Regions from separate parts of the Homo sapiens genome. Here region 2 is linked to region 1. A link means that fine-mapping ties the variant in region 1 to the expression of a gene that starts in the linked region. Tissue or cell type: monocytes after LPS. Region 1 holds a variant in brackets; the other region holds the start of a gene. All regions are shown on one strand. Distances are between the middles of the regions.

Evidence for each region. PIP is the estimated chance that this variant, and not a neighbour inherited with it, causes the effect.
Region 2: SLC22A15 starts here. The variant in region 1 is fine-mapped to the expression of SLC22A15 in monocytes after LPS (Fairfax 2014, PIP 0.90).

What each region holds. Positions count from the first base shown.
Region 1 is chr1:116,065,789-116,070,940 of GRCh38, forward strand. SLC22A15 (solute carrier family 22 member 15) reads left to right here. Exons shown (of 12, transcript NM_018420.3): 11 at 732-920; 12 at 1,231-4,266. The coding sequence ends at 1,320. Among named protein-coding and RNA genes, the nearest start is that of MAB21L3, 43 kb to the right of the region's middle. RefSeq lists an enhancer at 912-2,111. The variant G/GA (reference allele first, on the strand shown) is at 2,190.
Region 2 is chr1:115,973,683-115,978,834 of GRCh38, forward strand. It overlaps SLC22A15 (solute carrier family 22 member 15), which reads left to right and starts at 2,831. Exons shown (of 12, transcript NM_018420.3): 1 at 2,831-3,032. The coding sequence starts at 2,946. It overlaps LOC101928977 (a long non-coding RNA gene), which reads right to left and starts at 3,594. Exons shown (of 5, transcript NR_125970.1): 1 at 3,415-3,594. RefSeq lists silencers at 2,678-2,907, 2,968-3,217.

The DNA.
Region 1 (5,152 bases):
CTTAGCAGGAATTCTAAAATGTTGATCAGCTCAGAAAAGCCCCAGAGAAACACCCTGGAAGCAACTGTTTTTCATGTTTTCTTTGAATCTCTTTGTGATGAAATGTTTCCGTTTTCCTGAGAATATGTTTTGGATCTCTGAAACAATTGCTTGTATCACCAGCCCTTAACCATGTTCAGTTTAGAAGTTTATAAGCCATATGTATGTCGTAGGGTTGGTTTTTTAAAAGAGTTTTTACACCTTTAATCCCTGGAACTCTCAGTTACGGTCTTAAGGTATATAGGATGGTTTGGCCAATTCCAGGATTAAGAACTTTAAAGTTCATCATCAGCAAGTATTTTGGGATGCCTCTGTGCAAAGTGTGCTCACCTGGAATGGAAGCTGAACTACAAGATGTCCTGTCAGCTCTGGCCATATAGGCCTGCCTGCTCAGAGGCAGCCTGGCCTCTTCTCCTACAGTACCCACCCCGGACATGAAATTGCTGCTTCTAATGTACAGACTAGTGCTGTCCTTTTATTTACTCACTCCCATCTCTACATGCCTGAGGAATCATTCTCTGATTTCCCAGGATAATTCTTTATGTGGAAAGAAGTGGCTTATAGTGTTGTCTAGTGCGAGGTCATGAACTAGGTGGTAAACATGACAGTTTTTCAGTCATGAGACTGCTTGTATTACATGCTAAGGAAACTAATTCTCTGGTTTATTTTCATTCCACTCCCCGCCTCTGCAGAAATATGTGCAATGGTCTTTACCATTCATTGTCTTCGGAGCCACGGGTCTGACCTCCGGCCTCCTGAGTTTGTTATTGCCGGAGACCCTTAACAGTCCGCTGCTAGAAACATTCTCCGACCTTCAGGTGTATTCGTATCGCAGGCTGGGAGAAGAAGCATTATCTTTACAGGCTTTGGACCCCCAACAGGTGTGATATTTTTCTTAATTATTATACCGCTTGGATAGTGGCAGTTAATGAAAAAAAGAAGGTTTGCGTTAAATTAAATAGAACTGAGTAAAACTGCTGGAAAACAAAAGTGGGATCTAACAGCAGCTGATTTTCAGAGAAATAAGGATGATCGATGATTCATTAGCTTTCCTAGAATATTTTAGGGGCTATTTCTTGGGGGAATGAATGTCATATAAATACATTTGTCAGTTGAATAGCTAGATGGTAGTTTCCATTTCAGAAATGTCATAACATCATTTCACTGCCCTTTTCTTCTTTCCTGTTTCAGTGTGTGGACAAGGAGAGCTCTTTAGGGAGTGAGAGTGAGGAAGAGGAAGAATTTTATGATGCAGATGAAGAGACTCAGATGATCAAGTGAAGAGCCCCAGATTCCCCCTAAGAAGCAAAGGATCGTCTTTTATGCCTCTGGCTAAGGCAGGTTCTTCCATGACTCCTAAGAGAGTTGTAAAAATAGAGGCTTGGCTTGAATGTACATAGATGGTACCTGGCATGGACTGATGTTTTTAGGCACAGAAGTTGGAGAAGAGATTTCATGAAAGACAACATCACTGCATTGAGAGAATAGTTGTTAATTTGTTTAGAATTTAAGTTCTACTCAGAATCATAACATCTGGCAGAACAGCCCAAACCCACATTCCAAAGTGGTAGGCTCATTTGTTTCTAGAGATTTCATCATGTCGCTTTTCCTTCATCATGATCTAAATAAAGGCAGATATGTAAAATTTCTCACCATTTTGGTGGGGTAAGATAAGCTATTATTAAGATTTAATCCTTATACCATGTTGGACATTTGCCCCTATCAGTTGCTCCTCAGGAATCTTCTGGTACAGGTTAACATCAGCATTTTCATTTTGTGTCCAGGGAAAAGCACCCAGAGGTCATCTGTGTGTCCCGAGACCCTCCAGCTTTTTCTTAGCTGATGAAATATGAGTCCTCAGCTTGGTTCCCAGCCTGCTGATTGACTTGGGCTGCTGGTGCCTTGAGTCCCACAGATGATTCATTAGGAAAAGCCAGATATACCAAAGCGGTTTACTCAGAGTCAGGGGTGTAGCTCTGGCTGCCTGTCAGCTCCCTTGGATACTATATTGTATGATTTCTTCCTTTCCCACTAATATGCACATCCAGAAAAATTTCCATCTGAGATTCTAGTACTTCAAAATCATGCATAGTAAATGAGAAAGCTTTAAGTAGAGGGCAGTTAAACAGTGACATGTTGAGCACCTGGAG[G/GA]AAAAAAAAGGTGCAGTTTTTAATAAGAGAGAAAATGAAATTATCTTTGATAAATTTTTGTTTGTTTTGCTTTCAGCATTGTGCCATGAGGGATTTGGACAATATTTAAGAACTTCTTGTCCTAGATCAGCCCCAATCTGTTTAATCAAAATGGAAGGTTCAGTAATTTCATGGGAAACCTTGGTTTTTCATTAAGTGCTACCAACTTTCAAGTGAATCTTGTATTTGATTTCCTAAAATCATGTCTTGAAAACATGTTTTCTCATGAAACTTGAATACTATCTCAAATAGGAATATAAACCTGGAGTCAACAAGCTTAGGCAGCATTGATTTAGGTCACTTTCCCAGTGAGGAAAATTTCTGTGTTTTCAGAATTTCCATTTCTACTAACCTCTTGGAGAAAAAGAAATTGAATTAGAGGTAAATAGAAGACGTCACTGTGGCTGCTTCTGGAAGTGCTGGAAGCATCACCCCAATTGGCTCCAAATACTGTCATGTTTTCTTGCACACTGACTTCTGGTTTCCACTGTATCAGTATGTACCTTTGTAATTGTTATTTTTATGTCTTTTATGCCCTTGATTATTAGTTGGGCTCTTCATAAACAGAGGCCATCTCTACTACTGTTTATTTTTCCCTGCTGTGCCCAGAACATTGGCGTAGACACAGTAAGAACCTAGTAAATATTACTGTTTCTAGCCATCAGGGAGATTGTGGAACTCCTCCCAGTATAATTTTTACAAACTCCAAGCAAATCTGACCCAAACTCCCAAATTGTCAAGTCCTGCTTAACTTTCTCTGGAAAATAGACCCCTTCTCAACATCAGAATAGGAAGAGAGGAAGAACTTACAAAGACACTTAAAAGTTATTCTTAAATGGTGGTTGGGCATTTAAAACAGTGAACTAACATATATATAATTTTTGATTAGTTGGAGCTTTCTTTGTATTATAAGAGTAATATATCTCATTACAGAAAATTTGGAAACTATAAATTTAGAAACGTATCACCCATACGTCCAACATCGAAAGAAAACCAGTGTTATGACTTTGTTCCATTTGAAGACTAATTGGGAGTCCATCTCTCTATTGGCACTGGGTTCGATTGCCTCTGGCTAATAGAGTTCAATTAGTTCTATCCCTGGGTTTCCTTTCTTAGCTATGGGGTGGAAGATAGGAGGGGGAGATCTACAATTTGAATATGTGTTACTTAATAAGGCTAGGCTGGCCATCAGTTGCTTATTTCAGATGTGTCACTAAATTTTCCTTCTAGATGGTCCTTGAGCAAAACTTAATAATTACTGTTTTTTATTTCCACTGCCTTTATAAAATCAAAATTTTCTCCTTTTGATAAAAACTGTTGAATACTATTGATGTAGAGAATGTGTATATGTGTATATTTGCATTGATTAAATTATTGGAAAACTTTTCATTGACAGGTAATGTATTTTGGTTGTGCGGATGGTTTGTAAAAAGTATCCTGTTTTTTTAATTCTATTCAAAATTAAAAATTTTTTTTCCTAAAATAAAGCAAGAAAAATAAATGTAAGATATATAAGAAACCCCAGAGTTTCCAGGGTGAAAGTTCACATTAGCAGCTTGTCCAAAATATTTACACCTCACAAATATTTTGAAAGAAACCATGTTGAAATTTTCTGATTTTGTGAGTTACAACCACAGCCCAGTAAAACCAATACTTGTTATTTGGCTACTTTCAAGCAATGCAGATATTCTTTAGTATTTAAAAATGAGCAAATAAACAAAATGAGGCAAATAAATGAAGAAAATGAGTTTCTGAGACACTGTTTAGGTAACCATAAATCAGACAGATATTTTTATGGTGGGCAAATTGATGAAGATACTTTTAGTAGGTGATTTATATTCATAACAAATACATATTGAAATAATTGTCACTACTGTATCAGAATTAAAAACCAGCTTCACATTAGGACTTCTCCATACAAATGCTTTATCATTGGTTCTTAAATTGGAAAAATATCTATAAATGATTACATTTTTAAGCTAAATAAAATGCAGATATTTTGGCTTCTTGTGAATGTAATAAAGAATCATAAAACATAGACCTTTTTTTTGTTCTCCCAGAATGTCTCAAAATCTACAGTAGTAGCTTTGACAAGTTGGGCAAATGCAGAACCTGCTAGTAAAGTTAAGTAATATGTGGGACAGGGGTTGTAGGAAAGTTGTAGACTGATGGACACAAAAGTTAACTATCAAAATACTTTTAGAATGAGGAATATGCAAAGACAATGCATTGTGGAAAATCCATCAATGTAGTACATCAAAGGAGAAAGAGCTTATGATTACCTCAATAGAAAAATAAACATTATTTGATGAAATTCAACATCCATTCAAAATAAAAGCTATTAGCAGAGTAGGAATAAAAGGATGCTTCCTTAATAAAATAAGAGATACTATAGTAGATATGGTAAACTGGCACACAGCATCTCTTCACCTTCCTGGTACCTTGGCCTTCAGCCTTTTTTTTTTTATCATAACCCACAGTAAGAAATGCATTTTACATATTCATCGTGTCATACTTCCCCACCTACAAATATATATGTATATATAAAATATCTATGAATCATAAAAATGTATATATTTTATGCAATAATACTTAATCTTGCTAGGCATACTGATAACTTATGTTCTATTTCACTTTTCAAAATGCCATTTATAACTCAATAAATGGATATCATGACTCGCTAATAGGTTGCAACCCATAGTTTGAAATCCACTGCTCTACTCTATCTTCTTATACTACAGAAGCTTTAAAGCTAAAATGTACATTTTCTGAATTTCTTGCAGATAAGTTTACCCCTTGCAGCCAGGTGCAGTTTGGTTTCCTTCAATCAGATACAAATGGAGCTTGGAAGGTAGAAGCAAGGTGGAGGCCATACTTTTGATGAGTATGCTTTTTTCTGCTCAGATTCACAGTGCTGGAGCCGT
Region 2 (5,152 bases), 92 kb before region 1:
CATGGTGACTTACACCTGTAATCCCAGCACTCTGAGAGGCTGAGGCGGGTGGATCACTTGAGGTCAGGAGTTTGAGATCAACTTGTGCAACATGGCAAAACCCCATTTCTACAAAAAATAAAAATGAGCCATGGTGGTGTCTGCCTATAGTTCTACCTACCTGGGAGGCTGAGGTGGAAGGATCACCTGAGCTGGGGAGATTAAGGCTGCAGTGAGATGTGATCAAGCCACTGCACTGCAGCCTGGGTGACAGAGAAAGATACTGTCAAAAAAAAAAAAAAAAGAATAAAAAGAGAAAAATCACATATTAGGTCACAAAAAATTAAAACAATTTCCAAGATTTAATATAATCTCTGTCTACAAAGCATATAAATTATAAACAACACTAAAAAGATGGTAAAAAAAATAGCAACCTTTAATTGGAAACAAAAAATGCACTAAAAATAGCTCATTGGTTAAAGAAGAAATGACAATGTCATGAAATATTTAAAAGTAAAGACAACAAAAGTACCACATGACAAAACTTGTCGGATGGAGCAAAGTCCTATAGAAAGGTAAGTACAACCTTAAATATAATTATTTTATTTATTTATTTATTTCTGAGACAGAGTCTTGCTCTGTTGCCCAGGTTGGAGTGTAATGGCACAATCTCAGCTCACTGCAACCTCCTTCTCCCAGGTTCAAGTGATTCTCCTGCCTCAGCCTCCTGAGTAGCTGGGACTATAGGCCTGTGCCACCACGTCCGGCTAATTTTTGTATTTTTAGTAGAGACGGAGTTTCACCATGTTTGCCAGGCTGGACTTGAACTCCTAACCTCAGGTGATCCACCAGCTTTGGCCTCCCAAAGTGCTGGGATTACAGGCGTGAGCCACTGAGCCCAGCCACACATAATTATTCTTCAAAAAGAAATATTAAAAGCAAAGAAGCTAAACTTCAAGTCATGTGGCTAGTAAAAGAATTACAAAGTAACAAAAGTAAAAAAAAAAAAAGGAAAGAATTCATATAATCAATGAAATAAAAAAATTCACAAAACTTTTTAAAAAATAATAAAGTAGACAAACCTCTGGCAAGACTGATAAGATTGGAACAATAAAGATGAACACTATTCAGAATGAAAAATGGGACATAAACAGTTAGACCCTTATTTTTAAAAATCCCAAGAAAACAATATGAACTAGTTTATTCCAAAAACAATTTCTAAACTAGATAAAATAGAAACATTTCTAGAAAAAAAGTGGTTCAAGAAGAAATGCAAAGACATACGAATATATCTAGTTATACACACCTATTTATCTTTACCCATTATCTATAAATCTGTAATAAAGAGGCTCCCCCTGCAAAACAAGCTAAGTCTAGATGGTTGCAGGAGAGTTTTACCAAACACTCACACTCATGTTATGAAAGCACTATAAAATCTTACTGCCAAATCTAGACATAAGCATCAGGAAGAAAAGAAAATTATAGGCCTAGTTCGCTAGTCACAGATGTAAAGTCCCTAGACAAAACACTAGCAAATTAAATTTGGCAATAAATAGCAATATCGTGAGCAAGTATTAATAGGATTTATTCCAGTAAAGTTCAATATCAAAAAAACTATTACCATAATGTACCCGATTATCAGATTCAAGAAGAAAAACAATAGGATCATGTCAATAAATGCAAAAAGCACTTATTAAACTTCAGCATTTATTAATAATGAGGATTCGTAGGAAACAGCCAAAGAAGGAAACTTTTTAAACTATTAATAGTACTTATACAGAAAACGTTTCCTTAAGTAAGAGAGAGAAAAAAATCTTAAGAGTTTATAGAGTTTACAGTTTCCAACCCACTGATAAATTCAATTACAGTGAGCATTCATTTAATTGCTAAAAAAAGAAAGCAGCTGACCAGTAAAGCCTAGCTACCAATACGCTGCAACAGACATCACAATTAACGGAAAATTTTGGAAGCATAAGAAGGATACTGGCAGGTCAAGGACACTAGCTGGTCGCCATTTCTATTCAATGTTAAACTAGAAGTCATGGTCTAGACAATGGAATACTATGCAGCTGTTAAAAAGACAACACATAATAAACAAAAAGGCAAATGAGGTTAGGAGGTGGAGGCATGAGGGGACTAACGCAGGTGTCCAGCGTCCCTTGGCCCTGCCACGCTTTTTTTTTTTAATTTCCACCTGACAAACTGCCGTTTATCCTTTAAATACCTTGGCAGCCATCACATCCTGCCCCTTCGTCTTTTGCACTTCCTTTGTACCTCGTGCATACTTCTATAAGCAAATGTATCCGACGGTTTTACAAGAATTTGCTTGCCTACCAGTGTACTTAACCCATGGCTAGCACAGAATAGGACTGGAAAGAAATGCTGCACAGACAGCACTTTTCTCTGAAGGCTCTAGGGCTCCCCAAGCCCCCGCATTAAACTGGTTTGGGCAAAACGACAGGCATTGCTGAGAGCCGCCAGGCCGCCCGCCAGCTGCGGGTCCCCTGTAGGCAGAGCCCTGGGTCACACGCGGACGCGGTCCCGATGTTTCTTCTCAGGCCCTCAGCCCGGCCCACTTCCTCTTTCCTCACTTTAAGGCGCAGACAGCGGTCCCTCTCAAAACAAAACGTACACCAAAACACCATTTTTTTTTTAAACAGGAAGTCCAGAGGCCCGGGTCCAGGGCATCCAGCCCCGGATCTCGAACGCCCTCCTCGCCCCTCGCCCCGCGTAGCCCGGCTGCGCTCCCCGCTCCCCGCCCGGCGTCCACCTCTCGAGCCTGACAGCCCCGCCGCCCGCGCAGGCGCCCCGCCCCGGCCCGGCCCGCCCCGGCCCCGCCGCCAGCGCTTCCATCCCCGCCCCGGCGGGTCCAAGCCGGTGCCGGGCGCCCAGGGGTTGCCGCGCTGGGCGGGAGGGCAGCGCCTGAGAGGGCGGTGGGGTGGCGGGGTTCCTGCGCGCGGCCCGCCATGGAGGTGGAGGAGGCGTTCCAGGCGGTGGGGGAGATGGGCATCTACCAGATGTACTTGTGCTTCCTGCTGGCCGTGCTGCTGCAGGTAAGTCCCCGCGGCCCCGCAGCCGCATTTCCCTCTTCAGGGCCGCCCGGCGCAGGGCTAGGCGTCCGCTCCCAGACCGCCGGGGCCGGGGCCGAGGCCGAGGCTCTGCAAACACCGAGGTGTGGCGAGCGTCGGGGTGGGGCAGGGGCGAGGCGCCGCGCGGTGGCCTGGGCCCGGCCGGCAGCGTCAAGGTCGCCGGCCGGCCTCAGAGCCTCTTGGGTTCTGCTGGGCCCTCCACCCCGCCACCTTGAGTGGTGGAAGGAGCGTGTTGGGGGAGGTTTCTCAGCCGCTATGCTGGTTAAGGAGGGATGCAAAATTGTGTTACCTGCCCTACGCTGTTGCCTATAACACGCTGCAAATATGAAGGGAATTGTTACCCTACCTGTGGCACTGTCACCTTGGAATCTAGGACACAGTCTTGATAATCTGCAGACAAAAGGTTGTGTCTAGGATCGCCTCCCTCTGCGCCGGGTGTCCTCTGCCTCTTTTCCTGGGCTTGAGGGGGCTTACTCTTCTAGGGGCTTTCAAAGCATAGGATTTATTTCCCTCTGGTTTAAGTTCTGCTGGCTCATTCGGCCCTGCGCCAGCCTTGGGCTGAGACTCCCGTGAGCCGAATAGTGCCATCTACCATGTGTGGTTATCAAATGGAATCACTTCTTCATTATAAAGAATTCTCAGAACCTACTTGTACACCCCAGCCTCAAAATATCGATTCCATATGCGAAAGGTCACTACAGATTAACTGCGCCAGGCAAGGATTAGTCCTTCACCAACTTAAATGGCTCATTTGACATTAGTCGCTTCTCTCAATATGCCAGAGGCATTTCATTCACAAATCCTTTCTTAGTATTTGCTGTGAGCCAGCCATTTTACTCTTTCCTTCAGTCATCAGGTTTAATACGGGCTAGGATGTGCTGAACATAGGGATGCCATGGTGGACAAATCATTGACTGCCCTCAGGAGCTTGCATTCCAGTGGCTGCGGGTGGGGCAGGCAGACAGTTAAGTAATTTAGTTAGCATGTGATGATAGTTATTCTGCAGGAAGTACAGAGTGGTCATGGATATAGCCACCAGTCCACAAGTTGCTTAAAGCTTGCATAAGACAGTGGCTCAACAGGAAGATGGGGGAAGGTAGGGGTTGACTTATTGATTAAAATGTTTGGAAGTTCAGTTGATTTCATCATCAGCCAGAAACGGTTCAAATGATGGAGTCAGTTCTTTTTCTAGCCGAACAGTTCTCAGCTCACGAATATGTGGTATTCTGAAGTTCTTTTAAGCTCGTTGTTTTAGCTTTAAACAAGCTTTCCCCAGGGAGAAAAAACGTTCAAGCTAAATGATAAGAGTATTTAATACCGAGAAAGAAGAATTGCAACCATGATGCCTGATCTTTATTTATAACAGTTTCTTTGAGAAAACCCTTTTTTTCTGTTCCAGCCATGAATTCCAGGAACATACATCCTTTCTTGAACAATCCCAGCTCCCCATCCCTCTATCCCTACCCTTCACTTCCTGTTATCATTTTCTTATTTGCCTAGCCAAGTATCCACTAACTTGGAGTAAGTTTGTCTTCAGTAGAGTGAGGTTCTAAAAAGGCCAGTGTTCTCGGTTTAGGACCTGTTAAGTTTCTCTAACTTACTTTTATTTATGGTTGACCCAGTTAGTTAGAGTTTGCTATCAAAAAGTTCCAAGCCCATGCCTATGACCGTTCACTAAACCTTGGATGATTTATGGTCAGTATTTGCGGTACAAGGACCAGGTCTTAGAGTGTTGGGGATGAGTGACTGATTGTTTATCTTATAGATGTGGGTGGGAAGATGCCCTGTAGCTGTGCTTATACCAGTGGAGGAGATGCCAGCCTAGGCAAAAGTGAATCCTTCACATGCTACGTGTTTTTAAGGACTCAGTTACCCCATTGAGATACATGATCCAGGGGGTTGTAGAGCCACCCAGAGCTACCCTGGGTATGAGAGTGGATATCCCCAAAGACCTCTCTACCAAGTCTGTTGTTGGAGATGTTTTGTATTACGGCAGCTGGTCTGTGGAGTGGGAGTACTGTGGAGTCCCATTGCTCAGTTGTATCACAGGTGATTTCATCATTCTTGGGGATGAGGTTTTGCTT